4 linked regions of the Homo sapiens genome follow. The protein of the gene in region 1 interacts with the protein of each later gene in a pairwise test. Each region holds a gene or a part of one and is shown on either strand. Other genes may lie near its edges. The genes, in order: BTN2A2, SLC10A6, TMEM52B and SYT1.

The links.
Region 2: the proteins of BTN2A2 (region 1) and SLC10A6 interact in binary tests that used the Homo sapiens proteins (3 or more experiments, as listed by UniProt).
Region 3: the proteins of BTN2A2 (region 1) and TMEM52B interact in binary tests that used the Homo sapiens proteins (3 or more experiments, as listed by UniProt).
Region 4: the proteins of BTN2A2 (region 1) and SYT1 interact in binary tests that used the Homo sapiens proteins (3 or more experiments, as listed by UniProt).

Annotation. Positions count from the first base shown.
Region 1 is NC_000006.12:26,386,108-26,393,972, forward strand, and holds part of BTN2A2 (butyrophilin subfamily 2 member A2 isoform a precursor), read left to right. Parts: intron 1-1,905; coding exon 1,906-2,187; intron 2,188-3,897; coding exon 3,898-4,104; coding exon of another isoform or gene 4,105-4,163; exon of another isoform or gene 4,164-4,579; coding exon 4,580-4,600; exon of another isoform or gene 4,601-4,695; coding exon 4,696-4,722; exon of another isoform or gene 4,723-6,038; coding exon of another isoform or gene 6,039-6,188; exon of another isoform or gene 6,189-6,267; coding exon 6,268-6,860; 3' UTR 6,861-7,865. UniProt on the Homo sapiens protein: Inhibits the proliferation of CD4 and CD8 T-cells activated by anti-CD3 antibodies, T-cell metabolism and IL2 and IFNG secretion.
Region 2 is NC_000004.12:86,825,004-86,832,868, forward strand, and holds part of SLC10A6 (sodium-dependent organic anion transporter), read right to left. Parts: intron 6,878-7,865; coding exon 6,789-6,877; intron 3,166-6,788; coding exon 2,990-3,165; intron 575-2,989; coding exon 417-574; intron 1-416. UniProt on the Homo sapiens protein: Transports sulfoconjugated steroid hormones from the extracellular compartment into the cytosol in a sodium-dependent manner without hydrolysis.
Region 3 is NC_000012.12:10,181,226-10,189,090, forward strand, and holds part of TMEM52B (transmembrane protein 52B isoform 2 precursor), read left to right. Parts: intron 1-1,324; coding exon 1,325-1,368; intron 1,369-4,104; coding exon 4,105-4,143; intron 4,144-5,194; coding exon 5,195-5,364; intron 5,365-7,865.
Region 4 is NC_000012.12:78,859,367-78,868,139, forward strand, and holds the start of SYT1 (synaptotagmin-1), read left to right. Parts: upstream 1-5,407; 5' UTR 5,408-5,743; intron 5,744-8,773. UniProt on the Homo sapiens protein: Calcium sensor that participates in triggering neurotransmitter release at the synapse. May have a regulatory role in the membrane interactions during trafficking of synaptic vesicles at the active zone of the synapse.

The sequences.
Region 1 (7,865 bases):
CAGAGAGAGTGACTTTTATATAAATAGATGATTTTTATTAAAGCACAACTAAATACAGAAACAAAGTTATCTATAATTCCTGCTAACTCCACAGAGAAAGACTAAGAATTTAGCTGGGAAGAAATTGGCAAGGCTTCAGCATAGAAATGCACTTAAACTGGGATTTCTAATAGTTTGTTAAAAGTGACACTAAGTGATTACCTCAGTGTTGCAGTTAGTGTATTTTGCTTTAAAAGGTATATTTCAGGACTGAAAAAAGCCTTTAAGTTGCAGAATAATTCGTGGTGACATTTCAGTCCATCAGACCAGTGGAGGCAAGGACTAGGAAATTGGGTTCTTCCCAGGGGGCCCCAAATCATAACAGGTAGGAGACCCTATCTTTGCTACTCACAAAGGCAACCTTACATCTGATTAAAACAGAATATCGTGGATGGAGGGCTTCTTGACCCATTGTCATGACTGTGTTCACAGCAGCACTGCAATGTTGCCCAGTAATGAATGGTTGTATGTGGCAGGGACCCACTACTCTTTCTCTGTAAAACCAACCCTGTCCTGGCCTTCCCTAGTCTGAATTGGGTTGCTGTAGGACTTTTTGTTTGCTTGCTTATTGTACTCTGTTTGTTGGATTGGTTGGTGGCTGATTTTTCCCTTAAATCTATTGTGTCATGCTTACCCGTATTGAACCCATGGAATGTTTTGTAGGACTTTGTTTTCCAATTTGCTGAGGTATTTTAATTTCTTTTCTAATTCAGGATTTCTGTGTGAGCCTTCAAATGCACAACTAGCTTTTTTCTCCTGACAAAAATTAAACAGAGCAGAAAGCACTAGGCTTAAGTGATTGCTTTAATTTTCTTTCTTTAACATAATTTGTTGGGAGACTTTACAAAGGAATTATTCAGGAGAAGTTTGGATGATCACGCATGGCTGAAGGGTCTCCCAGGACCATGCTTTTGCAGCTCTCTCACTCTGGGTATTCTCTTTCATTGAAGGTTCTAGTAAAGATAGAATATATTTAGGATGAGCCTGAATTATTAGGATTTTTGGTGATGATCTCTGACATTGAGGAGGCAATATGGTTATCTTAAGGATCCCAGGGGCATCCAGATATTTCTAATACATTGATGTTCTTAAAGGACTGTAAGAAAATTCTCTATTGGATGGAACCTCTGGGAGGTAAACAACTGTGAATTAGAATAAGAATTGGCTTTGCCAGCTAGTTCTGTCTATTCTCCTAAAAACCATCACCTCCTATGGAGGTAGATAGCCATGGTGATGTGAGGCCCTGAACTAGACAGAAGTGTCAGTGACTTTGGTTCAAAAAGTTTCTTAAGATTTAGCCAAGGCTGAGCATAGTGGCCCATGCCTGTAATCCCAGCACTTTGGGAGGTCAAGACAGGTGAATTGCCTTAGCTCAGGAGTTTGAGACCAGCCTGGGCAACATGGCAAAACCCCATCTCTACAAAAAAAAAAAAAAAAGAAAGAAAGGAAAAAAAGCTTCTGCCAACCTGATAGGTTTCTGTCATTAGTGTATTATTTTAGAGCTTCAGGAAATTGAGGTCTGCAGAGAAGTCATCCCAGGAGCAGAAAGTGAAATTCTCAACCTGCCTGTTGAGAATTTGGACACACCCTCCTGGAAGTGAGAAAATTAGTCTTTGCCAGAATAAATTGCACAGCAAGCATTTATAGCAGACAGATAGATGCTTGGTGCTGTGATGGGGCCTTCAGGTGGAGCATAAAGAAAAGTGTGCAATGTGATCCTTTCTCTTTGAGATCTCACAATTTATTTTGCATATTGGTTTCCTGATGTTCTCCAAAACCAAGGGTCTTTCTAGCAACCATCCATCAAGGTGCAGTAGGGGCTAAGATACCACTGCCTTTTGGCTGAGCCCTGGTCTCCCTTTCCAGGCCTTGGGTCTAAGCCCCTCATTGAAATCAAGGCCCAAGAGGATGGGAGCATCTGGCTGGAGTGCATATCTGGAGGGTGGTACCCAGAGCCCCTCACAGTGTGGAGGGACCCCTACGGTGAGGTTGTGCCCGCCCTGAAGGAGGTTTCCATCGCTGATGCTGACGGCCTCTTCATGGTCACCACAGCTGTGATCATCAGAGACAAGTATGTGAGGAATGTGTCCTGCTCTGTCAACAACACCCTGCTCGGCCAGGAGAAGGAAACTGTCATTTTTATTCCAGGTTAGTTCTCTGCCCTCTGAGACCTATCAAGTGTATGCAGGATCCTCAGCACCCAGATGGAGCCCAGAGCGGGAATGGGGGCAGCAGTGTGGGTGGAATGGTCCTGGGCCCTGAGGAGCTGGAGGCTGCAGCTGAGTTGAGACGTCTCCCCTCCTCACAAAGGGAGATTCAAAGAGTCCCAAAACACAAGAGTAGGAGCCTCTTCTCTGAGGGTAAACCTGGTCTTTTTTTTCTTGATTAGGTCTTTATGCTGCAACAGTTGTAAAATATTAAGGACAACCATCAAACCTGGAGAGTAGTGTGGGTGGGTGACTGTCTATGCTTGGCATTCCTGTATGTTGCAGCCATCCCTTCCTGTCTATGGGACTTCCCAAAGGACAGAGCTGGGGAAATTCCCTATCAAGAGACATTCATAAATGTATTCAACAAATGTTCAACAAGCATTTCTTATGTTTAAGACTGTACAGGAAACCAAGGGTCAATAATTGAACAAAATATATCAAAATTTCTCTCCTCAAGGAGTTCATATTCTAGAGAGAGACAGCGGCCGGGCACGGTGGCTCACACCTGCAATCCCAGCACTTTGGGAGGCCAAGGTGGTTGGATCATGAGTTCGGGAGTTCAGGACCAGCCTGGCCAAGATGGTGAAACACCATCTCTACCAAAACTACAAAAATTAGCCGAGTGCGGTAGCAGGCGCCTGTAATCCCCGCTGCTTGGGAGGCTGAGGCAGGAGAATTGCTTGAACCCAGGCGGCAGAGCTTGCGTCAAGATCGTGCCACTGCACTCCAGCCTGGGCAACAGAGTGAGACTCTGTCTTAAAAAAGAAAAAGAAAAAAAGGGAGCGCGAGAGAGAGACAGCAATATATGAAATAATTGAAACAAGTGATTAAATAAATAATAATCTATATATTCTATCACATGGTGACGAGCATGTAGGAAAAATTAAGCAAAGAGAAAATAGAGAGTTCCAGGGGTGTGAGGCATCAGAATTATTAACAAGGTGGTCAGGGAAGACTTCACTGTAAAGATGGAAATTGAGCAATCAAGACAAGGAACCATCAGATGCTTAAGGACTGAGCAGCCAAGGTACAGGAAGAGCATATGCAAAAGGCCTGAGGAAGGAGCTTGTCTGGCAGTTTCCAGGACTCCCAGGAGGTGATGCTGGTGTGGCTGAAATGGAGTGAGTTCAGGAAGTAGGGGGAGATGAATTCACAGAGTGATGCAACTACGTTATATATGGCAGCACAGGCCACAAACAGGCTTTGGCTTTTAGAGTGAGTGAGTGGGAAGCATTGGAAGGTTTTGAGCAAATAATTAACATGATCTCACTTGGGCTGCTCTGCTGAGAGTAGATTACAGAATAGAGCAGAACAAGAAGGAGGGCACTCTAGTATTCCAGGCGTGAGTGATGGTGGTTTGAGGCAGGGTGATGGCTGTGCTGACTCAGCATGGCTGGTTAGTTTTATGCACTCTGGTCCTTTCCATGGTGACTCCAGATGTTTCTGCTTTGCCCCCTTCTGGGCCCGGCCCTGGCAGTCACTGAGGTGTCAGCCAGTGTTGAGCCAGCATCGCTTTCTCCATCTAAGGTTTCTGAGGGAGAAGCCAACAGAACAGGTGGCTGAGGAGCTCTTCAGATGTGCTCTTAGGGGCACTCTCATCCAGATGTTCTATTTCAAACTAAATGGACTTTTCTGGCTGCCTTTTCAGAATCCTTTATGCCCAGCGCATCTCCCTGGATGGTGGCCCTAGCTGTCATCCTGACCGCATCTCCCTGGATGGTGTCCATGACTGTCATCCTGGCTGTTTTCATCATCTTCATGGCTGTCAGCATCTGTTGCATCAAGAAACTTCAAAGGGAAAAAAAGATTCTGTCAGGGGAAAAGAAAGTTGAACAAGAGGAAAAAGAAATTGCACGTAAGGAATTTGTAAAGAAAGTGTGGAAAAATAGAAAGAAATTCAAAAAGAAAAGTTAAATGAGTAGGAGGACAATTGACTGTCATAGAAAGGCCACAGCTCTCACAGGTACCGGCTTAGGGAAGAGAGAGAGGAAATGCACAGCAGCAGCCACAAGGGCTTGGAACTCTCATGTCATAAGAAGTAATCATTCAGAGCTTTCTTTCTTCCATGCTGCACACATTACATTCATTCACCTGGCTATATGCAGCACTACATGGCTGAACGAAAGTTCAGACAAAAGTCTAACAATGTACTGATACTACCCAGCCATCTGATCATACATCATTGCTGGTTTCTGACTGTTCCTTAGGCATAAACGAAGGGTGATGTTGGTGTTCATAGAAAGGATGGTTCCTACGTTGTTTAATACAAGCTCAATTTCTCTTAGTTCTTCTGTTGAAGACATGATTTTGTTTCTGTATTTTGTTTTCAGAGCAACTTCAAGAAGAATTGCGTAAGTTTAGCCTTTCCTGAACTACTCCGTGTACAATTTGTGTTCTGCTTACTTAGCAGTGTCTCGTGACATTCACCTCTGTCTGTCCCTTGCAGGATGGAGAAGAACATTCTTACATGCTGGTGAGTGCCTCTGATGTTCTCTCAGATCTCAGCTTTCTCCCCACTAGCCAGCTAACAGGACTCCTTAGAGGAGATGAGCAAGGGGCCCAGGGCTACACAGGGACCATAGGGAACTGGGGTCAGTTCATCAACGGTGTCCCAGCAATGATGCATCATGGCTCTTCTGTCAGGGAACCCCAGCAGCTCTTAATGAACCCTGCAGTTTACATCCCCAGGACCCTTTCTCTTTTGGAATAATTTAATGCATGATTATCAAAGGTTTCCCATGCATAGTAGCCTCCTAAGAGTTACATTTCAGAAGTCATTGCTCTTTGATTCTGGATCAATTTGAAATAAGATAATGCTGTCTTAGCAATTCATATCCTGGGAATGGTATAGACTGTGCACAGTTGAAGACCTATGTGAGGAAAAGGCCATAAGGGTCCCCAGTAAGCCTGATGCAATGGTGTACAAATAGGTGGCCAGAAATACCTTTCTGCCTCTAAGAGAGCACTGATATTCTGCATGTAGTCTGCCAGGGGAAGGGGTTTGGGTGAGTGGGAGGGTGAGTGGGAGAGCACAGAGAAACCAATCGCCCACTTCCAGTGAGTTCTCATCTTGTGATTCGGCACCTCTGCCTGTCAGCACCAAAGAATCCAAACTTTACCAGATACCAGGGCCCATGGACCTTTCCTCTTTGGCGAGTTTCAAAATTGCCACTGTCATTTTGGGACACAATCACAACTTGTCACAATCAGACATATCAACTTGTGGAAAAGAGAAAATCATTTTAATGCAATAGAAAGGTAGACTGAATAAGTAAGAATACATGCAGAAGGTAGAGGTTTGCAGAATGCTCAGCTCCTGGGGCTTTTCCTGTATGGGAGAAGTAATCCTGGTAGATGTCAGACTCATATTGTTAAAGCAAAACTGGATTGAAGTATTTCTTCCCTAACTTTGCCCACACATCCCTCAGGCACCAGGTTTTCTTTTGCACACATTTATTCTCCTTCTTTATCCTTTGAAGTGTGCCCTTGTCAGCCACTTAAATCAGTTGTCACCTATTAAAACAACCTATAGGACCAACGAAGAGGTCCTTCACCACCTAGGACAGTGTGTAATGATAGACTCACTTAATTGATCCATTGAGAGGTATGTGGGGGAACAATAGGAGATAAAGCTTCTGTGATGGTTTAAGCCAAGTTGGAAAGTTTCTAACTAAAGAAAGTCCCAGAGATCATATATCTTGAATAGAAAAGGGATCAGATCTTAGAATGCTGAGAAAAACTGGGAACCATTAATTTTGGCTCATTTCCTAAACTCTCTGGATTTCATAGAGCCACAATTCTTCTCAACCTGGGGGCACTGCTTCTGTCTCTGGAGAGATAGAAGTGCAGCTTCCGTAATTCTCAGGGTATGAGCTGCCTGGGATCAGGGGACCTTCATGGAAACGGCCACTACATGGGGAACCCCCTTCAGCTTTCTGAGACTTCTCTGGGGACCAGGAACCACACAATCCCCAGGGTTCCTGAGACCCCAGGCATAAACCTGAGACTTCCTCTGCAGCTGATGTGGTCCTGGATCCAGACACCGCTCATCCCGAGCTCTTCCTGTCAGAGGACCGGAGAAGTGTGAGGCGGGGCCCCTACAGGCAGAGAGTGCCTGACAACCCAGAGAGATTCGACAGTCAGCCTTGTGTCCTGGGATGGGAGAGCTTCGCCTCAGGGAAACATTACTGGGAGGTGGAGGTGGAAAACGTGATGGTGTGGACTGTGGGGGTCTGCAGACACAGTGTTGAGAGGAAAGGGGAGGTCCTGCTGATTCCTCAGAATGGCTTCTGGACCCTGGAGATGTTTGGAAACCAATACCGGGCCCTGTCCTCCCCTGAGAGGATTCTCCCTTTGAAGGAGTCCCTTTGCCGGGTGGGCGTCTTCCTGGACTATGAAGCTGGAGATGTCTCCTTCTACAACATGAGGGACAGATCGCACATCTACACATGTCCCCGTTCAGCCTTTACTGTGCCTGTGAGGCCCTTCTTCAGGTTAGGGTCTGATGACAGCCCCATCTTCATCTGCCCTGCACTCACAGGAGCCAGTGGGGTCATGGTGCCTGAAGAGGGCCTGAAACTTCACAGAGTGGGGACCCACCAGAGCCTATAGAATCAATTCCTTGGACTCACAGCCATGCAGATAAGCCCTGGCCATCTCAGCAGCCACCGCACAACCCCCCTAATGAAAGACACGCCCTCCTCCCCTCTGGTCACGTAAGAGAACATCTTCCAGCTGCCTTTTTCACACCCACTCCAGCCCTCTGCCCCAGTTTTCTCCTCCTCACTAGTCTGTGGCTTTAGTAGTTCCTTTGCTTGTAATTATGGGATGGGATCCAGGCATAGGGAACTAGTTGTTTCATAGCTCCCAGTCAAAAAGAAAGTGAGAGAAGCTGTTGGGCAGCGAACCTACTGTTTAAAATCAGGATAACCACATTAAGCCCAATATGCCAGTTGGCACCAGATGCTGTGGACTTGGAATGAGGCCAACAGGGTTCACCAGGATGAGAGAGGAGAGAGGAATCCACAGGACCACCAGAAGGGAGAGGGAACCAGATATGCAGATCAGAGATAGAGGAAGTGGAACCAGAGAGCTGGGAGGGACCAAGGTTGTAAGGATGGCTAAGTCCCACCATAAGAGCTAAAGGGTCCTGGGAGATGATGGCTCATTTCCACCCAACCCCAGGATTTCCACAGCACACACCCACAGGCCTGGACCTGGGATGAAGATGAATGAAGAACATGGACTCATGTGGATGTGGTTTGGCTCAGATGTCCCTGCAATAAACAAGGGGTCAGTACTTAGTCCCTGAGTGTGGTTGAGGTTTGAGGTCCTGGTCGAGCAGGGCAGTACTGGACCAGGTCTACGTCAGCATTCAGGTTCAATGGGGACACCAGTGGCTTCAAACTTCCTGATCTAATTATGTTTTTAGACACTTAGAAGTTATTGAGGACTTTAAAGAGCTTTTGTTTATTTGGGTTAATATTTATGACATTTGACATTGAAACAAAAATTTAAAATGTTATCTTTTAATTTATGTTAAAATAGCATTAATAAATCAGTTATAGGTTAATGTAGATAGGATGTTTTGTGAAAAAGCAATCTATTGTGTCCAAA
Region 2 (7,865 bases), on another chromosome or scaffold:
TAGTCACAGAAACATTGAAATAACTTGGCATTTGGGAGACCTCAAGGCTTTTAATGAGACCTAACAAATCAACGCTTAAGTGCAGCAAATGTCACTTTGGAGCTCAATGATTGCTCATAGAGATCTTGTCTTAACAAGTTACGAAGTCTAAGTTCTGATAGTGGATTCACTTTTGTGAAGTATATTTGTTTATAATTATAAGCTCATTTTCAGATGGCTTTTTATATTTTTCTGTGAAACTCCCACTTGTGCGCCAAACTATCCTGTCTATGTGCCTTATCGTCCCCAGAAATGTCAGGCTTTCAAAAAGTGTATCACAGGGGCAGCACATGCAAGTTTGGATTGAAAAAAAAGTTGGTAAGTTGGGGTGAACAATTTCCCGTCAGTTATTTCCTACCCAATGGGTGTTCACCCACCTGCAACAATAAGAAATCCATCTATCAGCTGGAAGAGTCCATAGGCCAGTGGGAAACTCAACATCTGGACCAAGTGCTCAGCAGTGAAAGATAACTGGAGCATGGTGATGCACATCTGAATATTCTGAGCTCCAGTTTCTAAGGAAATTGTCCTGCACCTACCAAAAAGAAAATGTTTCAAGAGTAACGCACTAGCAATAAGAACTATTCTAATATTTTCTCATATGCATCATAACAATTAGAAGCTATGACCTCAGGCCACTGAAAATGTGTACTCATTCCATAGTTATTTGCTGAGTGCCTATTCTGCAGGTGGTCTTCTGAGAGGCACGGTGGAGTGAGGCTTTGCAAACCCTGCCCTAGGCATCTGAGTAAAAAGACAAGATAAACACACAGGAGAGGTTCAGCAACAACACAAGACAAAGTATGGCCAAAGGCCACGCAGATGTAGAAATTTAGAAAATGGCAGAAGGGGTGAGAGAAGGCTTCACAGAGGAGTGGGATTTAAGGATGGAAAAAAATAGAAGAAGCTTTTGATGAGGGGGAAATATTATAAAAATTAAAGTTCCAGGGAGAGGTGTGAGTGTGGCCTGTTCAGCAGGCATTGCATATACTGTAAGCCAATCTGCAGAGAGGAGAGGACTGGAGGAGACAAGAATGGAAAGTTGAGTTAGAGATATGATGCAGGACATGGTGGCTCATGCCTGGAATCCCAGCACTGAGAGGCAGAAGCGGGAAGATTGCTTGAGCCAGGAATTCAAGACCACCCTGGGCAACAGAGTAAGACCCTGTCTCTACAAAAAGAAAAACGTATATATATTTTTGAAAGACATATGAAACAATATAAACTAACCAACACTTAAAAACAAATAAACAAGGCCAGGCACAGTGGCTCACGCCTGTAATCTCAGCACTTTGAGAGACCAAGGTGGGTGGATCACCTGAGGTCAGGAGTTCGAGACCAGCCTGGCCAACATGGTGAAACCCTGTCCCTACCAAAAATACAAAAATTAGCCTGGCGTGGTGGCACACGCTCCTGTAATCCCAGCTACTCGGGAGGCTGAGGCACGAGAATCACTTGAATCCAGGAGGCAGAGGTTGCACTCCAGCCTGGGCAACGAGGTCTCAATAAATAAATAAATAAATAAATAAATAAATAAATAAAAACACAAAAACCCTGAATAAAGACCAAATTCCTAAAATGATTATCTTTGGTGAAAGAGTTTGGTAATAATTTTTCTTTTTGCTTTCTACTTTTCTATACTTTATTGGTTTTCTGGTTGCATAAAATGAAGTAAACCTCATTTGAAAAGACAAAGGAGGGAATAGAGGGAAGACCTGGGCAGGATGTTGAGGGCTGAGTTAAGCAGTTTCACGTCTCCAGTTTATAAAGGGAGCCTGCAGTGTTTTATATGTGGAAGTGAGGAGATAAAAGAGGTGTTTCAGAAAACAAACAAGCACCTCTGTGCAAGCTGGACTGGAATGGGGAAGTAACAAGGGTGTGTAATGAGGGGGTGAAAATGCTGTCAATGGTACAGGGCAAGCTCTGTGTTCATACGTTATTTCTACTTATTCTATTGCTTGCTACACTTGTCTCAAACCACCCTCACTTCTTTGAGACTTTTGTCAAAAACTCGATATGATTAAGCTACAAAGCTGGAACTCACACCTGCACCATTCATGAGCCAAATCTCAGTCCTGGGCTTTGTCAGGCTATCAGGTATGAAAAAGATGGGATTGTGGACTACATCTTGCCATAGGAGTACTTTCTGTCCAGAGCCAATTGCATTTCAACCACTCAACAGACTGTGTTCCTAATTGTTAAATTTGGAAACAAACCCAGGTCCAAATCCTAACTCCACAATTTTCTAGCTCTATGAACTTGGTCAAGTCACTTAATTTCTCTGAAGGGTCTGCTCATCAGTAGAATGAGGGTAGTGATAGGATCTACTTCTCAAGCTTGTAGTAAGAAGTAAATGAGATAGATGGGGTAAAGCTTTACCGGGCGCTTAGTACAACCCTAAATGTTCCCCAAGTGGATTAGAAGTAGCATAAAGCCAATTAAAAATTCCCAACTTTCACCTTTGGAATTCAACTGCATAGTTTACTCTTCTTTAGTAATTTTTTTCTGCTTTTAAAAGTAGTACATACTTATTGAAAAGCTTCAAAAATATACCAAGGAAATACTAAAGAACTAAAATTATCCTTAATTTCGCTACTCAAAATTAAACATTGTTACCATATGGTGTATTTCTTCCAGTATATTTTGATGCATAGAATTCTTTTTGCTTTCTTCTACGAAGTGGGAATCAAATCATGTCGTTTTCTATTCTTTTTTAACTTAAATTTATCTCTTCCTATCAATTTGGCCTTTGCTTTAATTTACATAAAGAATTACCACAATATTTTCCATGAATTGCCATGAATGACCCTCTTTTATGCTTAGTTATCCTGTCGATTCCACTATGTAAGTCAAAACTCTTCATGTCTCCTGACACAGGCAGCAAAGCCTACCAGTGGCAGTGTGTTAAATTTACCTTCCTCAAAAAAGTTTATGGATAGTTTAACTATACCTTTGCCAAGACTGGTGGGTAAAAAGTGCCAGCAGAAAACCCGTGACATGGCCAATCAAAGGAAAGATGAAACTGATGGTCAGAAGGGTGATGTCTGAATTCCAAGATCCTTTCGCCAGGACCACACCAGCAACTGCGACCACCAGAAGGAGGACCCCACCAACAACGGCCCCAATCTGAAGCAAACAATAAAATAAGTGAATATAAACTCAGGGTTTTTTGCTCTATGATACAAAGTCCATCAAGGTTGTAAAATGCTTGGGATCTAGAAATTTTAGAACAAAGAAGGGACTTAGAGATGACTAAATACAATTTCATTTAGTAGAGGAGAAATCTGAGTTCCAAAGTGGTCAAGTAACTTGCCTATGCTAGAAATTGGTGGAGTTTGACACAAATCTAAGTCTCGCTTTAGCATATCTACCTTTCTCTTCAAGTAGAAGATTTTGCCAAAAGGATTGGGTAGTAGAGTTCTATTGTGGGTAGAACAAAAGTGTAAAATGAATGGAATCTGACAATGAGCTTCCAACACCCCTGCACACACCTCTATGACCCTCTGCTTGTGACCTCCAGTCTGACGTCTGCCCTGCCTGACCATCTGCCTCCCCTCCCACCGCCCCTTCAACCACCAGCAGCTGCCTGCTGCTTTGATCCCTGTCCTTCTCCCCTCCAAATAAAATTTACCCATTCTTCATTGGACAATCTGAGCTAATACTCATGATCACATGAGAAATACTGATGGAGACCTCTATCCTCTCCCAAATGGATACTGTCCTTACTTTTGTTGTTTAACAAGAACAGAAACAAAAGCCAACAATAACAAAATTTTGAATAGTTTGAGATTTAGATAAAATAGGAAGAAAGCATAACCTAGGGTATTTTGGGAAAATCAGGATCTTGGCAAGCTCCTGTTCATATCATGTAGACAGTAAACTGTGTACCTAGTTACAGTGTCAACCTTGATTTGAAATGATTCAGGATGTGAAGGAGGATGGTCGTAGGAAACTAGAGAAGACAACAAACAAACAGAATGACCCAATATACCATAAATGTGTTCTGGGGGTCATTTTTACTGTTCAAATACAGAGACAGACTAGACCCCTGCCTAAGAAAAAGATGCTAAGACAAGAAAGCCTCTTGGTCAGGCATGGTGGCTCATGTCTGTAATCCCAGAACTTTGGGAGGCAGAGGTGGGCGGATCACCTGAGGTCAGGAGTTCAAGACCATCCAGCCAACATGGCAAAATCCTGTCTCTACTAAAAAATACAAAAATTAGCCAGGCGTGGTGACACATGCCTGTAATCCCAGCTACTCAAGAGGCTGAGGCAGGAGAATTACTTGAACCCAGGAGGTGGAGGTTGCAGTGAGCCAAGATTGCGCCACTGCACTCCAGCCTGGGTGACAGAGCAAGACTCCGTTTAAAAAAAAAATGAAAGAAAGAAAGCCTCTGAATGTAACATCCCCTCTTCCTCTCTCTACCAAAGATTTCAAAGTTTAATATCCACCAAGAGCAAATGGGGAACACTTAAGTTTGTTCAGAAAATGTGTCAGATCTAAAATTAAAATGGAACTAAGGCCTCTGAATGTAACATCCCCTCTTCCTCTCTCTACCAAAGATTTCAAAGTTTAATATCCACCAAGAGCAAATGGGGAACACTTAAGTTTGTTCAGAAAATGTGTCAGATCTAAAATTAAAATGGAACTAAGAACAGGGAATGAAGATATACTAAAATAATGATTACATTAGCCTAGTTTTTTTTTTTTACTAAGGTAGTCTAGAATATTTATGCATATTATTAAATGTTTTGCCATAAATCCTATGAAATACCCAAAAGAAAAGAGTTTTAAATTTGCTCGTTACAGAAAATAAAACTGACATGTAAAAAAATGTATCTGGTTTCTCCATTGACACTGATGGACTGATAGAGGAGCTGGAAAACTCCAAAAGCATTATTTTTGTTATTGTTGTTAAATGCCCTTTTAAGAAAAATAATCAAAGATAGAGTACTTGAAAAGCAAGAAGTTTCCATGATCATTTCCCTCCTCTTGTTTTGTAAACAAAATCATAACTACCACACTGGAAATTTTCTCCTACTGAAATAACAATAATAAATGTGGAAAAGGGGCCAGGCACAGTGGCTCATGCCTGTGATCCCAACACTTTGGGAGGCCAAGGCCAGAGGATCCCTTGAGGCCAGGAGTTGCAAACCAGCCTGGGTAACATAGCAAGACCCTGTCTCTAAAAAAAAAATCTTTTTATTAGCAGGGCAGGATGGTGCATGCCTGTAGTGCTAGCTACCTCAGAGCTTGAGATGGGAGCATCATTTGAGCCTAGGAGATCAAGGTTGCAGTGAGCTATGATCGTGTCATTGCACTCCAGCCTGAGTGACAGAGCGAGACCCTATCTCAAAAACTTAATTAATTTTTAAAAATAAATGTGGAAAAGATGGGACTTTATTCCATGAGTACAGCTAAAAAAGGAGAGTGAAAATCAGGTGTGCACTATTGATGTTAAAGTCATCCATATGCAATACAAATGTACTATACTAAGCCATCCTCCAGCTCTCTGTGCCCAGCTGATTTTCTGCTTGGCAAGCCCTCTCCTCTCATTCTCCATCGCACTGAAGGAATGGTGGGAATGGTTTGGCCTTGTGCATAACTGGGAAAACAGTGTCCATTAGCACAGGCATATAGAGTGGCAATGTTCTGTGAGGTAGAGCCAAACGGCAAAAGCTTAAACCAAGCCAAACCATAAACCAGAAAACAAAATTAACTGAGATTTACTACATGAAACTCTAAATAACCCCAAATGTTTACTTCTTTATAAATGTAAAATATAACTGAAACATTTTTAAAATCTTCATGAAAGCCACACATATTACAACCTTCTATCTGCTAAAGTGATACATAATCAGAAAAAAAATGGAAAGCACCCTAGGAGACTCACACCATTGTTAAGAATGCCTCCTCTTTACGTTTTGTTGTTTTGTTTCATTTTTTAGAGATGGGGTCTCACTCTGTGATCCAGGCTCCAGTGCAATGGCATGATAATGGCTCACTGTAGCCTCAACCTCCTGGCCTCAAGCAATCCTCCCACCTCAGCCTGCCAAAGTTCTGGGATTACAGATGTGAGCCACTGCACCTGGCCTCTTGAATTATTTTTAAAAGCCATTTAACAAAGACATTTGCTTGTTTCTCCAGCAGACAAAGGGCAGGACTGCAAAGACAAGAGGAGGTAGAAAGTTCTAGTCACCATCATTCCATAGCTAGACTCCTCAGTGCTTCCTGGATGATTTCATTTAAACAGTCTTATTCATGTAGTCAGCAGCCCTTGCTCATGTGTACAAACAACAGCTTTGGCCGTGACCCCAGGAATGCTTCTGCAAGACAGCCCTTCCTCCTACTCTTCCAAGAAACCAGCCATATTACTAAACACTGGGGTTCCCTTTCATGCTCACTTGAACAGCTTCTGCCTCAAGAGCACCTGTGTGAAGCCTTGTTTATGGATGGGCCTGGGCTCTTCTGTCCACACACAGGCTTTAGCTTTCCTGACACTAAATCAATAGTTGCTTATTTTCCAGGGCGTCATAAGCCTCAGGGTACAGAACTATGGGAGTGGCAAAGCAAGGCTTACAGGGTGGAGGAAATATGATCCCTGGATCCAAAACCACAGGATGTGTAAGAAGAATTTCTGGGTGTGGGGCCGTACTCAACAAGCTCACTTGTCCCAGCCACTGCTCACTTCTGTCTTTCAGGCCCCTGAGTCTGAGGACGTGCCAACAGTGGCCATGAAGTCACTCACCTTGAGAATGATTTTGGATTGTTTTGGCCATCTGTAATTCACATAGACACCAAAGGCCACAGGAATGGTCAGGCACACAAGGGTAATTCCTAAAGAGAAGAAAAATCCATGAGAGGGTTTTCCCTCTCACCCTGACTGCACAGTACTTCCCAACAACTTCTATTTCAATTAGGTAACAGCTTTAAACTGACATTTTCCCATGCCACTTCCCAAGTCTGGATAAATGCCTACAATATTGGCTCCAAAGTTATATAAGCTGCTCATAACATTTTGCGTCTTGTGAGTGCCTTTCAGAACATATTATCAAAGCAGAATATATTAAATAACTTACTGATCAGAAAAAAAGTTGCACATAAAATCATGGTTTCTAAATTAAGGTTTCCCTCAAATTTTACAGATTCAGTGGGCTCCCGCTATTGTGAGGAAGTGGGTTCATTCATGGTTTTGAACTATGGGCCATGGGTTGTAAGCCTTCAAGGTGTTTACCTGAGACACCAGATTGACACTGAGAGTCTTAAGAATCATAGTGTTGGCCAGGCACGGTGGCTTACACCTGTAATCCTAGCACTTTGGGAGGCCAAGGTGGGTGGACTGCCTGAGCTCAGGAGTTTGAGACCAGCCTGGGCAACACGGTGAAACCCTGTCTCTCCTAAAATACCAAAAAAATTAGCCGGGTGTGGTGGCCTGCACCTGTAGTACCAGCTACTCGGAAGGCTGAGGCAGGAGAAGGCAGAAGTTGCAGTGAGCCGAGATTGCACGACTGCACTCCAGCCTGAGTGACAGAGCAAAACTCTGTCTCAAAAAAAAAAAACAAAAAAACATAGTGCCTATCACTTTTTCAAAAACTGACCACACTAGAAAAGGCAGATCATTTCACCACATTTCTCTTCTAAGCTTGCTAAACCCACAGAGATCTTTAGGAAAATGGCAGACTTTCATGAGAAATAATATTCAGAAGAGGAGATAATGAAAGAGATATGGGTGAGACTGTGACATGTAGATGAGTTTTCATAATCAGTAAGAATTATTTACATTCAACCTCCAAGAAAAAGTCAAGGTTCGCAGGCAATGTGAAAG
Region 3 (7,865 bases), on another chromosome or scaffold:
AGGAATTGTTAGAGCAAACTTGTCCCCAGTGCTATTAATTCATCCAACACATATCTATGATAGAGTTTGATTTGAATTCTGTCTGCATCAATAGGTGTGTACATTTGGTCACTTTTTTTTTTTTCCAAGATGGAGTCTTGCTCGCCTAGGCTGGAGTGCAGTGGCATGATCTCGGCTCACTGCAACCTCCACTGCCCGGGTTTAAGCAATTCTCCTGCCTCAACCTCCAGAGTAGCTGGGATTACAGGCGCACATCACCACGCCGGGCTAATTTTTGTATTTTTCGTAGAGACGGGATTTCACCATGTTGGCCAGGCTGGTCTCGAACTCCTGACCTCATGATCTGCCCACCTTGGCCTCCCAAAGTGCTGGGATTACAGGCGTGAGCCACCACGCCTGGCCTGGTCACATTACTTAAAACCCTGTGCCTTAGTCCCTTAACCTTTCAAGATAAGGTTAAATATACCCACCAAGAGGGTTATTGTGATTAAATGTTATGAAATATTAAGAGTTCATGGCCGGGCGCGGTGGCTCACACCTGTAATCCCAACAGCACTTTGGGAGGCGGAGGTGGGTGGGTCACTTGAGGTCAGGTGTTCGAGACTAGCCTGGCCAACATGGTGAAACCCTGTGTCTACTAAAAATACAAAAATTAACCAGGCGTGGTGGCACGTGCCTGTAGTCCCAGCTACTCGGGAGGCTGAGGCAGGAGAATTGCTTGAACCCGGGAGGTAGAGGTTGCAGTGAGCCAAGATCACGCCACTGCACTCCAGCCTGGGTGACAGAGCAAGACTCAAAAAAAAAAAAAAAAAAAACAAAAAAAAAAAACTTGTTAGCAGTCTGAGTGGCATCTAGTAGCTATTCGATAAATAAGACTCTCTGTCCCACTGGCCCCCTCGCTTTTCCCCTTCTTCCTTTGTATAGTCATTGTCACACTAACAGGATAAAAAAAGAGCAGTGGTGTAGAATTCAACTGGGCAGGAATTAGGAGGACAATGGCAATATCCCAAGGGACAGAGAGATCAGGAATTTTCTACTACAAACAAATTAATGTAAATGGCTACCTCTCATTCACAAAGGGTGATGCTCACCCACCATCAACACAACAGATGAGATATTTGTTCTTCAAGGTTCCCTTACCTCAAGTACAAAAGCCAGCAAGTATGGGAGAGATGAAAATGGCAGTCCTAAATAGACTGCCCCTATGACCGTGACCTTCTTACTGCTTGATCTAACACAGCACAACCATGAGAGATGATTGGTAAGCAGCTGAACACAGTGGCCAAAACAATTTCCCTGTATAAGACAATTTCTCTTTCTACAGCTTTCTGGGACGAGATGTGAGGAAAACTGTGGTAATCCTGAACAGTAAGTATAGAGTTCAAGCTGGGAGGAAGGAGCAACAGACCAAAACATCACTACCCCAAAAGAGAGTCAAGATGTCATTAGACATCTATGACTTCTTTTTATTTATTTTTACTTAAGTAATAGATCTCATAGATGACTTATCACAAAATAAAGACGTGTTTTTGTCATCTTAAGCACTCAAAATAACACTGCTGACAGCATGTTTTTACCCAAAGCCAATCTTCCCATCAAAGCAGCACGATTAATCTCAACTTATACAGTCATAGAGACTTGCAAAAGACTTCCTTAGCCCTGCTCCTCAGTGACTCACCAGGACAGACGGTTTAGTATCTAGTCACTGGCATATATATTTGGGTGATTTCCAAAGTAACATTATTACTTTAAATTGGGAAAGTATTTTCTAGTTTTTAGGGCATGTTAACATTTATTGGGCAGACTTCATTTAGCTATCACTTTGATGTAGTTATCAACTAATCCAAACCTGTCACACTTAAGTCTTATGTAGACACAGAGGACATGAAGATAAAAATGCAAAAGAATCATTCCACTTAAAGGAACTGTAAAATACAAATTTTAAAAAGTAGTGGCACTTTGAATAAAAACGTGTTTAGGATGAAGAAAAATACATATTTAGCCATGGGAAGGGTTTCCCAATAGCCAGGTCTGTTAAACCCAGGGAAAGGGTGATAGCCTTGATTACCTGTCACATGCAAATTGGGTGTTGACTACTTGACACCTGCTTTCTGAGGTTTTACACATCTTCCACCATAGGAAGAGTCCTTTCCTATAAACCAGAGTCTAATTAGAACTAGAAGAGTTTTCAACAAGTAAGAAATGTGGGAAAACCAAGAGGAGTCATTGTTCAGTGAAAAACAAAACAAAACTATATTTTCTATAAATGTGTGACCAGAGAATAAAAATAGATTCACTAGATTTCAGTAGATTCCTGTATCAGAAAGAATTATTAAATAACAAAATTTACTACTCTTCAAAGATACACAAATATTTTGCCTCCCCTCATTCTCCAATTCCTGAACTTATCTTCTCCTTCTCCCATACAATCCCTATTTTTTTTTCATTCTTACAGAGAAAATTTACAATTGCCATAGTGAACTCAGAACATTATTTAGCTTTCATCATGGTAAAGTTGGCTTCTACTTTTTTCCCTCTTCCTGTTTGGTCTCAGTGGATATGCAAATTAGTTTTGATCCTGGATGTGAAAAATTAGGGTACTCTTTACGGTGGGTGTGATATTGTGAGAATATATATTTGGTTTTGTCCCTATCTCCTAGCATACAACTTCTAAAATCCCCAAAGTAAGTAGCATCATTTTGCATGCTAATGAGTTGATTGGTGGCTGGCAGCCCCTAGGTAGATTTAGGATGGGGCTGGTCATTGGAAGGACCAATGCAGAATGCTTAAAGCCTCACCCCTCAACATCCAAGGAAAGTAGAGGGGCTGAAGTTTAAGTTGATCATCAATGGCCAATGATTTAATCAATCACGCCTACATAATGAGGCTTTCATGAAAATCCCAAAGGATGGATTTGAAGAGTTTCTGTAAAGCTGAACAGGCAGTGGTTTCTGAAGGGTGGTGCACTCGGAAGACCTGCAAGCTCCGTGCCCCTTCCCACATGCTTTGCTCTACGCATCTCTTCATCCGCATCCTCGGTAATATTCTTTGTAATAAACTGTAGATGTAAGTAAGTGTTTCCCGGAGTTCTGTGAGCTGCTCTAACAAATTAACGCAACCTCAAGAGGGAGTCAGGGAACCCCCAATTTATAACCAGTAGGTCAGAAGCACAGGCAAAACAAATTGTGATTGGCATCAGAATTCTGGGGAGCCGTCTAGGGGACTGAGTCCTCACCCTATGGGATCGGATCCTATCTCCAAGCAGGTGGTGTTGGCATTGAATTGAATTAGAGGACGCTCAGCTGTTGTCTGTTGCTGGAAGATTGCTTGCCTGGTGTGTGCGGAAATCCTCACCCACCCACATCTGGTGTCAGAGGGTTGGGAGAGTATAGCAGGAAGAAACTAAGTTTTTTTTTTCCTACATTCTCAGTGGGAGTGTTGCAACAGCTTGCAAAAGATAAATTACAAATGTGATTGTATGACTTTCATACTCATAACTGAAATTTTCTTTATGTTTACATTTTATTGACCTCAAATATACACAAGCCTTAAGTTTCACATCCATTTTCAAAGTTACTCTTTGTAAACTTGCATTCCAAGTTCTTTCTTAGTATTTTTTTTTTCTTTTTGAGATGGCGTCACCACGGCCGGCTAATTTTTGTATTTTTAGTAGAGATGGGGTTTCACTATGTTGGCCAGGCTGGTCTCCAACTCCTGACCTCGTGATCTGCCAGCCTTAGCCTCCCAAAGTGCTGGGATTACAGGCATGAGGCACCGCACCTGGCCCTTTCTTGGTCATTTTTATCATAAATGTTTGCAATAGGCACAGACATGTTTTCTATGGACACTTCTAATGATCACTAGTTTGTTTTATAATGATTTACAAAATGACTCAGACAATGCCATCTATAGTATAAAGTACTATTTAAAGCATATCATTTGGCAAAAGATTCAACTAGCTACAGTGAATTTTAAAAACATAACCCATGGTGCTTTATTTATAACAAGGTATCACATCATATTGTAACTCATATTTCTGAGTCTGGAGTTATAACAGGGATTGACTATATTTTTAATGTAGAAAACTTTATTCTTTCTTTATAGTTGCCTGACCACAGACTGGGTACATCTCTGGTATATATGGTAAGTTTCACTTATAATACCCAGAAAGACACTGTATTCCTCAAGGCCATTAAAAATGACAACCTGCCTACTTACTTAGCATCTCATGGAGTAAGATTTCATTACTTCATCACTACCTATGTGACAATATGTCAGGATTTCCTTTTTCAATACCATCTCCTCCGCAAACATCAAACCATTACTGTGTCCTTCCCTCGGAGTCTGTTCTAGAAATATCTCAACGAAGATTACTTTAGTGAATTAAAAAGCAGAGCCTGGCCGGGCGTGGTGGCTCACACCTGTAATCCCAACACTTTGGGAGGCTGAGGCAGGCAGATCACTTTGAGGCCAGGAGTTCGAGACCAGCCTGAGCAAAATAAAGAAACCCCCATCTCTATTAAAAATACAAAAAAAGTTGGGCGCGGTGGCTCACACCTGTAATCCTAGCACTTTGGGAGGCCGAGACAGTGGATTATCTGAGGTCAGGAGTTCAAGACCAGCCTGACCAACCTGGAGAAACTCCGTCTCTACTAAAAATACAAAATTAGCTGGGCGTGGTGGCACATGCCTGTAATCCCAGCTACTCAGGTGGTTGAGGCAGGAGAATCGATTGAACCCAGGAGGCAGAGGTTGCGGTGAGCTGAAATTGTGCCACTGCACTTCAGCCTGGGCAACAAGAGCAAAACTCTGTCTAAAAAAAAAAAAATTAGTCGAGTGTGGTGGCATGTGCCTATAGTACTGGCTACTCAGGAGGCTGAGATCGTGCCACTTCACTCCAGCCTGGGCAACAGAGCAAGACTCTGTCTCAGAAAAGAAAAAAGAAGCAGCCCCCCAAACTACCTTAAATGTCTTACTATTTGTTCTAATGAATTGACTTACTGCAGCTGACAAAATAAGGAGGTGTATCTATAAAGCAAAAGCCTTGAAATTAAAATTATAAATTAAAATATTTATAATTATTCTATAAAATGTTTAGACAAGAATCAAAACACAGACATTAAAGACTGGTTACAGCAGAGCTGGGAAAAAAGCCAGATCCCAGAGCTCCCACTCGCCCCGTGGGCTTTTGCAGGTTGCTAGTGGTAATTGGCGCGCTGCTTCTCCTGTGTGGCCTGACGTCCCTGTGCTTCCGCTGCTGCTGTCTGAGCCGCCAGCAAAATGGGGAAGATGGGGGCCCACCACCCTGTGAAGTGACCGTCATTGCTTTCGATCACGACAGCACTCTCCAGAGCACTATCACATGTGAGTACACTGAACTTTTAACCTGGGAGGAGGACCCAATTTAAGGGAATAATGAAAAGGGTGCAAAGGTGTAGAACCACTGATCGAGTAATATTAAAGATTCCAGGACTCACAATAATTTCCATTCCCAGAAGCCTGATGGTGCAGTGACCTGGGCTGTCACTGAAGCTGTGTTCTCAAGGGTCTGTCTGGCTCATGATAAAGAAAGAAGTGAAATATTGGAGGCTATTGGAAATATTGAATAGGAAGAATTAGCCAGTTTATAAATAGTTACTTTGCTAAAAACTATTTTGAACTCCAAACGGATGCCTTTTTCAAAACGTCTTGGATTTTGTGAAATCTACTTTTTCTATTATCTATACTATTTTATATTTTTAAAGAAATTAATGACATGTACTTTCAGTTCTTTATTCTTCAAGGCTTGATACACTAAATTTTAGCCTTAACATTTTCTCAATGATTATAAGACACTTTCCCTTTTCTTCTGTGGTTCTATTCTTTCCATGACGGTTTTTTTTTTTTTTTTTTTTTGAGATGGAGTCTTGTTCTGTCGCCCAGACTGGAGTGCAGTGGTGCAATCTCAGGCTCACTGCAACCTCCGCCTTCCGGGTTCAAGTAGTTCTCTCCCTTAGACTCCAGAGTAGCTGAGATTACAGGCACCTGCACCATGCCTGGCTAATTTTTGTATTTTTAGTAGACACGAGGTTTCACCATCTTGGCCAGGCTGGTCTCAAACTCCTGACCTTGTGATCCACCTGCCTCCGCCTCACAAAGGGCTGGGATTACAGGCGTGAGCCACCATGCCTGGCCAAAATGGTTACTTTCTTTTTTTGACACGGAGTCTCCCTCTGTTGCCCAGGCTGGAGTGCAGTGGTGGGAATCTCAGCTCACTGCAACCTCCGCCTCCTGGGTTGAAGAGATTCTCATGCCTCAGCCTCCTGAGTAGCTGGGATTACAAGCAGCCACCACCACACCAGGCTATATTTTTTTAAATTTTTATTTATTTATTTGTTTATTTTTATTATTGGTAGAGACAATTTACCATGTTGGCCAGGCTGGTCTCAAACTCCTGACCTCATGATTCACCTGCCTCTGTCTCCCAAAATGCTGAGATTACAAGCATAAGCCACTGTGCCTGGACTATGCTCTTTCCTAAAATTGAGGAGCAAGTACCAGTCAGAACACCAGCTGGCAAAATGTGGATATTTATTTTGAAAAGAGAGTGATGGCTGGGCGCAGTGGCTCATGCCTGTAATCCCAGAACTTTGGGAGGCTGAGGCAGGTGGCTTACTTGAAGTCAGGAGTTCGAGACCAAGCTGGTCAACATGGTGAAACCTCGTCTCTACTAAAAATACAAAAACTAGCCAGGCATGGTGGCACACACCTGCAATCCCAGCTACTTGGGAAGCTGAGGCGTGACACTCGCTTGAACCCGGGAGGCAAAGGTTGAAGTGAGCCGAGATCGTGCCACTGCACTCCAGCCTGGGTGAGCGACAGAGAAAGACCCTGTCTCAAAACAACAACAACAACAAAATAGAATGATATGATGTGTTGCTGTTCACCTTTCCTACCTCCCCTTTCTCACTGTCATCTTAGGAAAAAAGGATAACCAAGGCTGGGCACGGTGGCTCAGTCCAAGGCGGGCAGATCATCTGAGCTCAGGAGTTTGAGACCACCCTGGGCAACATGGTGAAACCCCGTCCCTATTAACGTACAAAATTTAGCTGGGCGTGGTGGCACGGGCTTGTAGTCCCAGCTACTCGGGAGGCTGAGGCACGAGAATCATTTGAGCCCAGGAGGCGGAGGTTTCAGTGAGCCGAGATGGCGCCACTTCACTCCAGCTTGGGCTACAGAGTGAGACACCATCAAAAAATAAAAAAGGAAAGAAAGAAAGAGAGAGAGGGAAGGAAGGAAGGAAGGAAGGAAGGAAGGAAGGAAGGAAGGAAGGAAAAGAAGAAAAAGAAAAAGAAAAAGAAAAAGAAAAAGAAAAAAGATAACTGGGCATGGTGGCTCATGCTTGTAATCCCAGAACTTTGGGAGGCCGAGGCAGGTGGATTATTTGAGGTCAGGAGATTGAGACCAGACTGGCCAACATGGTGAAACCCCACCTCTACTAAAAATACAAAAATTAGCCAGGCACTTTTGTTGGCCAGGCACGGTGGCTCACACCTGTAATCCCAGCACTTTGGGAGGCCGAAGCGGGTGGATCACAAGGTCAGGAGATCGAGACCATCCTGGCTAACGCAGTGAAACCCCATCTCTACTGAAAATACAAAAATTAGCTCGGCGTGGTGGCGGGCGCCTGTAGTCCCAGCTACTCAGGAGGCTGAGGCAGGAGAATGGCGAGAACCCGGGAGGCGGAGCTTGCAGTGAGCCGAGATCGCGCCACTGCACTCCAGCCTGGGCGACAGAGCGAGACTCCGTCTCAAAAAAAAAAAAAAAAAAAAAAAAAAAAAAAAAAATTAGCCAGGCACGTTGGCACATGCCTGTAATCCCAGCTA
Region 4 (8,773 bases), on another chromosome or scaffold:
ACTTTAATGTTGCCCTTGCTTTATTAGCAAACTAGTTTTCACCACGGTATATTCCTTTTATCATAGAGTATTTGAAACATATATCATTTGTTTCCTTTCTAAGACCTTTAGCTAACATTAGCTCAAACTACTTTTATTTTGCCCCTGAGATAGATTCACCTAAATGATATTTTCCTTGCTAACCTCAACAGCCTGACACAGTATATTACTTTTTGAGTAACTGTCCTCCTTTTCATTTCCAATACTTTCTTAGCCACATCTTTAAGAAAAGGCTTTTGTAAAGCCACATAGAAAACTACTAGCTCTTTGTTTTCCTTTCTTTGGAAATTGTGAAGTTTCATCGTTCAATTATGGGGCTCTAACTCTCTGCTCCAGAGACTTGACTCCCATCAGTATTCATTTTTTTTCTTCTCCCATTTCTAGAGTCTCTTTATTAAATTCCATGGATGTTCAGTATAAAAATCAACACAGCTAATTTCTAATCTAATTCTGATACAAGGAGCCTTCATGTTTTTTCTTTACCAATTGGTTACAAAATCACTAGCAGTAATCCCAGGACAAATGATCTTGAGAAAGATGAATGGAAGAGAAATAAAAATGATGGCTCTACTGTCTTCAAGAGCATTTTCTAGAAAACAAAACAAAACAAAACAAAATAGTGTTCATCATTTTTTTTTTTGCCACCAGAATTGGATATTTCTTAATTTGAAAGAATAATATAAACAAATGTTTTTATGAAAAAAAAGCTTAAGTATCCATCCCTAAAAACTAAATTATTCATCTCGTAGATGATTACAGTGTAAGACTACTACATGCAAGACAGATGACTGTTGTCATTTTACGTATTAAAAAAGTTCTGTATCCAGGCGCGGTGACTCATACGTGTAATCTCAGCACTTTGGGAGGTCAAGGTGGAAGGATCACTTGAGCCCAGGAGTTCAAGACCAGCCTGGGCAATATGGCAAAAAAAAAAAAAAAAAAAGAAAGAAAGAAAAAAAAAATTAGCCCAACATTGTGGCATGCACCTGTAGTCCCAGCTACTAAAGAGACTAAGCTGAGAGAATCACCTGAGCCTAGGAATTGGAGGATGCAGTGAGCCATGATTGAGTCACTGCGCTCTAGCATGGGCTACAGAGTTAGACACTGACTCCTCCCATCAAAAAATAAATAAAAGTTCTTATAACATGAATTAACACCCTTCTACCTTTAATGCTCATAGGTGAGGAGTCTATGGCTCACTATTGGCTTAAATGGATGAGATGATGGGAGGAAACCCAATAACCCAGAAATCTGGAAAAAAAAAATAGTAGTAGCAGAAGTAGCAGCAATGATAATGATAAAATGATAATAATAGTCATTAAGTTCTTGCTATGTGCTTGGAACTAGCACTTTATGTGCACTGCTTTTTTTAATCCAGAAAAAAAACCTAATGATAAATGTTGTATTCTTATGTACATATTTTAGATGACAAAACTGAGACTTGGAGGGGTTTTGTACATTTTTCAAGGTGGCATAGCCAATTAGTGGTGAAGCTGGAATTCTACCCAAATTCTGACACCAGAAAACATTTAATTAATTATCTGTCCTGCAAAGAGACCAAAAAGTCAGTATCTTGAGAAACACAGATATAAAGTGAAAAGAATAGTAAGATCTGCATCTATATAAAAAATAAACAAAAAAATAGAAAAATTTAGAGAAGTCAATTATTTTTCTTTTTTAAAGAAACAATCCTGGGTAATGATATTTATAAATAGCTTTTACCAGACAACTACTGTGGCTACTAAAGATATAAAGTTTAATGATGTATGAGTCTTAATTAAATGTAACTCTTTTTTTATTATTTATTTATTTTGAGACAGTCTCGCACTTGTCACCCTGGCTGAAGTGCAGTGGCGGGATCTCGGCTCACTGCAAGCTCCGCCTCTCGGGTTCACGCCATTCTCCTGCCTCAGCCTCCTGAGTAGCTGGGACTACAGGCGCCCGCCACCACGACGGGCTAATTTTTTGTATTTTTAGTAGAGACGGGGTTTCACTGTGTTAGCCAGATGGTCTCCATCTCCTGACCTCGTGATCCGCCCACCTCGGCCTCCCAAAGTGCTGGGATTACAGGCGTGAGCCACCGCGCCCAGCCGGATTAAATGTAACTCTTTAGTATCATTGATCAACCAGGTAATTCTGGCCTTTCCAACAACCTGCAGAATTTTCTTGATACCTCTCTCACGTTAAGTATTCTTTCTGTGGTTTACAGAAACCTTGGCTAAGTTTCCACTTAATGAATTTCTAGTTCTAATGTCCCTAATTCCCACTCTTGCCATAAGACACACTTTCCTCCTCAGTGCCCCAATCCAATTTAGTTTCTATTCTGATCCTGTAGCCTAAAATAGATGGCAAAGGAAGCATGAAAGTAGTAAATAGATGAATCCAATAAAAAAGGAATAAAGAAAATATTGAAAATGAGATCTTGATCAGAGCAAAATGTGAAGAAAAATTAATAACACTTTTTTAACGAAGAAAGAGGAAACAAAACATTAAACAGATTTTGTAAAAGTTCTGAAAATAATATTTTTAAAATACCATACAATCAGGGGATAAGTTAATTCTCAACAGCAAAAGTACTCTAGATGTAAAAGTACTTAAGAAATGGAATGATAAGAGTGACAAAGAGCTCTCTCTTTGTCTCTACAGAACAATTGACCCGATCTTCCTTTTAATAAAAATGAGTCTGCTTCAATAGGCAAAGAGATGATACACACTTGCGGCAAAGTATAATGTTGTGTCAGCCCAGTAGATCCAGGAGGACGTCTTCAACACATTCCCAAGAGCTTGGAGAGAATTTAGGAATAGGAGGGAGAGTTAAAATCTTAGTATAGCTACAGTCACCATATAAATAGAGTCTTCTTATTATTTATGTACAGAAAATGTTATCAATTCTAAAGTTAAGCACAATATACATGTAAAGCCCATTTCTTATTTTAACCTGCAGTCTCCCTCAAGGAACATTGGGTTACAAACTTCTGATACCATTCATGTTGCCAAGGATTCTGGCCACTGAAATAGAAAGATTGCTAGGTAAGATGTGAAGTAAACAGGAAAAGAAATTGACTAAAATATTAATGACAAAATCAGTGTCTGGAGCAAAAATTTTAAAATCTGTATTTGTATTCTATTGACTAATTTATTCTAAAATAAGCATACTTTTTTTCTACATGCAGCTATTGGTAAATAGGATAAATGTGCCAGTTTTAATCACTGGAATCTAGAAAGTATGCTAGGCATATATTTAGAATAAAGATCTATATTAAGTGGATATTATAATAATCTTCTCATCCAAAGATATTTATTGGACAACAAAATTACAGGGTTACTTAATTCTTCTTCGTCTTCTCTTCCTCCTTCTTCTCCTTTTCCTCCACCTCACCATCCTCCTTCTCCTCCCCTTCCTCCTCCTCCAACTTCTTCTACTTTTTATCCTGTCGTTTTTCTTCCTTCTCTGTCTTCTCCTCCTCCTCTCCTTCACTAAATAACTGAAATAAAATTTAGACCAAATTCTTTTATCTTATTTCTCCAACTATGAAATGATTTTAAAATAAGGTTTGGAGACTATTTTGGAAAATGGAAAGTGAATATTTACATGAAGTCACAAGTCTGGGGTGCATTATTTTCACACTTCTACCTCTAATGTTAAACTTCCTATTATTCAAGCATAGCCCAAATACAAGTGTTTGTCACTTAGAAGGATATATTTATATCACGTTGCCTTCTTTTCCCGTATACTTAGAATAAGGATCTTAATCTTAAACATTACATAAGTAGAAGAGATTTAATTAAAAACTTGAAGAAATGTGTTACTGTTAATTGAATTCTTGCTACATTTACCTTTGCACACCAATGTTAATAAAACTCCAGTTCAAAGTGGATGGGTTTGGGGAATTGAGATAGCTATTTATTTCCCTACCTGAGATGCCAAGATAATCTTCTCAGTAAAATAAAGAACCCAATTAGGAGAGTTCTCATTTGTAGCTATTGATCAAGTTTACACAAAATGCTAGGATTTCTAAATAAAACAAATAAGAGGTTCAAAGGCCTTTAAACGAGGTTGAGGGAGGGAGAAAGGGAAATAGTTCTCTCCGTTTTGAAATCCTTTCACCTGTGGAGCAGATAATGGACGGGCCCCTCTCCCAGCTGGGCTCCGCTCCCGCCCCTAGCCTGGCGCGCGGTCCCTTCCCCCACCCGCTGAGCCTTCCTGTTCGGTATTTCGGTATTACCAAGCTATAAATTGCCTGAGAGCTTAGAGACAATCAGGTCACCACCGCCCTCACAAGAGAAAAGCTTCTTACTTCCGAGCAGAACGGTTCAGCTGGGAAGAGAGGAAGCAGGGAGAGAATCTATGCTTTAGTCGTCACTGCTCTGGCAAGGGGTCGAGAGAGATGGGGGAGGGAGGTGGCAAAAAATAAAAATGAAAAAATAAAAAAGCATCTCCAACAATGTTGCACTTGACCCAAGTGTACAAACTTATTGGTCGCTGCAATGGAAACTCCCAGTGCACTCTCCACGGCCTGGCAGCCGCCGCTGATGGGTGGAGTCGCGCTCCCGGCCCCACCTATGGGACGGAGCTGCTTCTCCCGCATCTCGGCTCCACCGCACCCTTCGCGGGAAGTCCCCAGGCTTCCAGCAAAGCTCAGCTTATCCCGCCCCCGCTTCCAACCCGGAACCCCAGAAGAACAGCATGATGAGCCTCCGGCAGCCAGGTGGGCCACCTCCCCGCGGCTCAGTTTGAGGACACTTGTGCGGAACCCTTTCACATCCCCACCCTACCCAGCTTTCACAACTCCGCCGGGTTAAATGGCCAAAGACAAACTTCTACCTCTCCTGTCCCCGGTCCCAGCTTTTCAAAAACCCACAGCTGGCGAACCCACACACATCGAAACTCCTAGGTCGCTGTTGCAGTCTGGGCATGCTCAGTATCAGGGTAGGTTTTGATTGAGAGTAAAAAAAAAAAAAAAAAAGCTTTGTATTATGCTCTCTTTCTCCTGTGCATACTGCTTGCTGAACAGCTTGTGGGGCATTCCTGAGTCTACCTAGAGGTTTTATCAGACGCCCTTGATTGTGTCTCCTTGGGATCTGTTCCCCTCTTACTTCACCCCCTCCCCCAACCCGCCTCCACCCCGCTTCCCAGGTCCCTGTCCGCTGTGGGGATGGAGAGACACTAACAGAACTGGGATGGGCGATGTTGGCTGAACGGATCCACCTATTATTAGTGCGCGGGGATTGGCTCCTTGGCGCAGCGTACCCGAGGTGGAGCCAATCAGGATGCTGGGGCTCGGAGATGATGGGCGGCCGCCTCCTCACTGGAGGGATTCCTGGAGAAGCTGCAGTGTGGGGATGCTCTAGACCGAGTACTGCCCCCAGTGTCTTTCCACCTCCTCCTGCAGCAGCGGCAGCGGCAGCAGCAGTTAGCAGCGGCAACTTGAGGCTGCACCCCGGGCAAGTCCCCAGGGTGGTGCTCAGCCGAGAGGGGGGCTTGGCGCCCCGAAGGGGTGTGTGTAGGGTGGGGGCGACCACGTGGGACCAGCTGGTGGCCCTGGAAAACCTCCCACACACCCACACCCACACACCCCTTTTGTGTTGCAGGCTGCCCCTCCAAGAGCGGAGGCAGCGAGAGTACGCGTGTGCCTCGCGCCGGTCCACGCGGGGAGAGCACTGGGGACCGAGACCCGGCACCACCTCCCGGTCCGCCCTCCAGGTAAGGAAGCGGGACTGGCGGCGCGGCCACCTCGGCGGTGCCTATCTGCTCGAATCCATCCCAAAGATTTTCTTCTCGATACACTTGGGTTTTAGTGGTGGGAGTCTGAGACCTAGGGAGGGATCCCCGGGTGGCCTATTGTGAGAAATATGAGACTACATGTGCATCTCCTGGAAAAGCACTTTGCACAGCGCCCGTGATTTAGAGCCTGGAGTTGATGTTGGGCATCCCCCATCTTCTTGCTTCCTCTTTCCTTCTCTTGTTCTCTCTCCTCCGTCCCCCACCCCCAATCTCAATCTTTTCTCTCTTTCTCTCCCACACCTCCCCTCTCGCCCTCCTCCCACCCTAAGCACGCACAGCGTTTCTTTCTCCTCCTGGAGAGGATTGCCTTTCTTAGAGGAAAGAGGGGGAGTGAAGAAAGGAGAAAGATTTCTTTCTGTTGGGGAGAGGGATATGGGGGGGGGGGGGAACGTAAACAAGATAGAATACAAGCTCTGCGAAAATCAGAGCACATAAAGCAATTAAACTGAATAAGGGGAGTAGACAACCAGTCCAGCTTGGGCTGTCAGAGAGAGGAAGCGTCAAGTTTGACTTGATTTCCTCCTTGCAAGAGTCTATGTCTCTCACTTGATTCGTTCAAATGGAACAAAAATAAACCGACAATCCAACCCACTTTCAACTGCTTAATTGCTTTTGCTTTTGAGTGCCAACCATCTGACTTTTCCTGTTTCCATCTGTCCTGTGGGGCTAACAATTTGGTATTGCACATCAGTGTTAATATCTGAACTTTGAAAGCTTTCTTGAGTAACAAAAAAAAAAAAACAATTAAAATAGATTATTACTTTCCTGAGGTTTCTTGGTATGGCCTGTTGTTGGGGGATCAAAAAATGTAAAGTTTCAAAACATTTGCAAGGGACAACAATTTTATAGGGAGGCTTGGATTTCTACTTTGAGAAAGCTAATCTTCTAGTTAGCTTTGTGTACATGTTGATATTCACTTTCTCCAGTATTAACCCTTTCGTGAAATAAAGCAACTGTTTAACTTTTGTATGGAAGCTACATTTGTGTAGAATTTTCACTTTATTCTACCTTTGTACTATTTGCATTTTATTGTCTGGATACCAAACTTATGCCTGGCTTTATTTTCTTTTAATAGGACAATATTTAATGGATGTAAACATGATGTTTATACAATTTCAGCACTCCCTTTAGAAGGCACATGGAGGCTCAGTTGGACAAGAATCCTCCTGTACTGGAACTAAGTTTAGAAAGTAATGCTAGAAAGATACCCTAAATTTTAAAAATCCTGAAGGGGAAAACATTTTTGTAACGTCTTGTTAAAAGAAAGAAAAATATATCAAAACACCAACATGCCCCTGGCTGCCTGCATAATAGGTCAAGTAAATGGTACTTGTTGGACAGAGCCTTTACAGCAGCTTCAGCAGTCTCTAATTCCATCATTGGGGATATAAGCTTTCTTTTCTTATTATTCTTCAGGGACAGCTAAGCGATAGTACTGTCAGATGGAAGGAGGTATAGAGAAATGCCTCGTTTGATGTAATAGGAAAGCATTCCAAGTGGGTCTTACCTGAACACAGAGAAATCCACAGATGTTAGTATACAAAACACTTCTTTTTATTTATCAGGGGAAATGCAGAGTCTTACTTTTTTTTGTCTAGAACTCCACTTGATATAAGAAAAGAGAATCTTCTATCTTAACTGTGTCTGACCTTCCACACTAATTTTGTATCTCAGAGAGTATTTTTTCACTACGTACGTTTAATATATAAGTTTACACACCAACTTAGAGAAGAGCTGAATTCATTTGCCATCAGTGTAATGTGTACTATTTTCCAAACCATTTTGCATTTGAGGCAATGATCTCTCCCTAAATAGAATTACCAAGTCACGAAAAACGATTTTCTTTCTAGGGCTTTGACATTTAAATGAAAAAAAAAAAAAAATAGTGTCTCTGTTGAAAGCTAACTCTGGTTTTTAGAGGTGCCACCTTTTGGTTACAAGGACAAAGGGACAATCACTTAATTACCTCACATGTATGTACAACTGAATTAACAAGTTTAGACATGAAAAGATGTACAAAAAGGAAGCCAGCTGCCTTCATGTGAGAAAATTAAGATTTTGTTTTCTCATTTCTCCACTGTCTTAGGAATATGTGAAAATTTAGGCTTGGTTTGTGACATTTATTTTCATGACTCTTTACAAATGTTAATTATAGAAATAACATCTAAAAATATGGATATGAGTAGTTTTTCAAATACTTCTAAAAAATTCAATATCTGTGTATTGGAAATCAGAACTAATTCCAATATATAGTGAGTGGATTGGGGAGAGACCTTACATGATATATTATAGGAAATTCTTACTTTGTTATCCCACAAAATAGTCTAATGTCACAATTTCATACAATCTTTGTTTTTTCTCCCTTTGACAGGATATTTTAGTAAATCTCATTAATGTTTCAGAGTAAATATGATAATTATGCCTCGAGGTATTTTTGTCAGAATTGAAGACTGCTAATATATAGGGAAAATCCTAAAATACTAATTTCACAAAAATACCACATGATTGAGAGTTGTTGCTGAGTAGTTTTGAACTTCATTTCATAATGGAGAATATTAGTTATTTCATCTGGTCAAATTATCAGATAGTTCTAATCAACAAATATGAAAATGAATAACATTGTATTTATACGATTTGCATATTAGACTGAAATTGAAACTAAAAAATAGTATTAATTATATGCTTGTATTAATTATATGCAAGATGAGCTGGAAGATTAATAAAATAAAATGTAGAATATGTTAGAAATCTGAAAGTTAATTTGAACTTCCTGTTAGCCTAATAACACCATTAACATAATATCAGTTCATCACTTTTGATGTCAGTATATTAAGTTGATTTTGAGAAAATTCCCAAAACAGTTAGAGCCATCTAATCTTAAAGAACACACACTTAATGCAGACAATTATACGAGCCTGAAATATAGTTCTTATGATTTCCAGTTTGTGC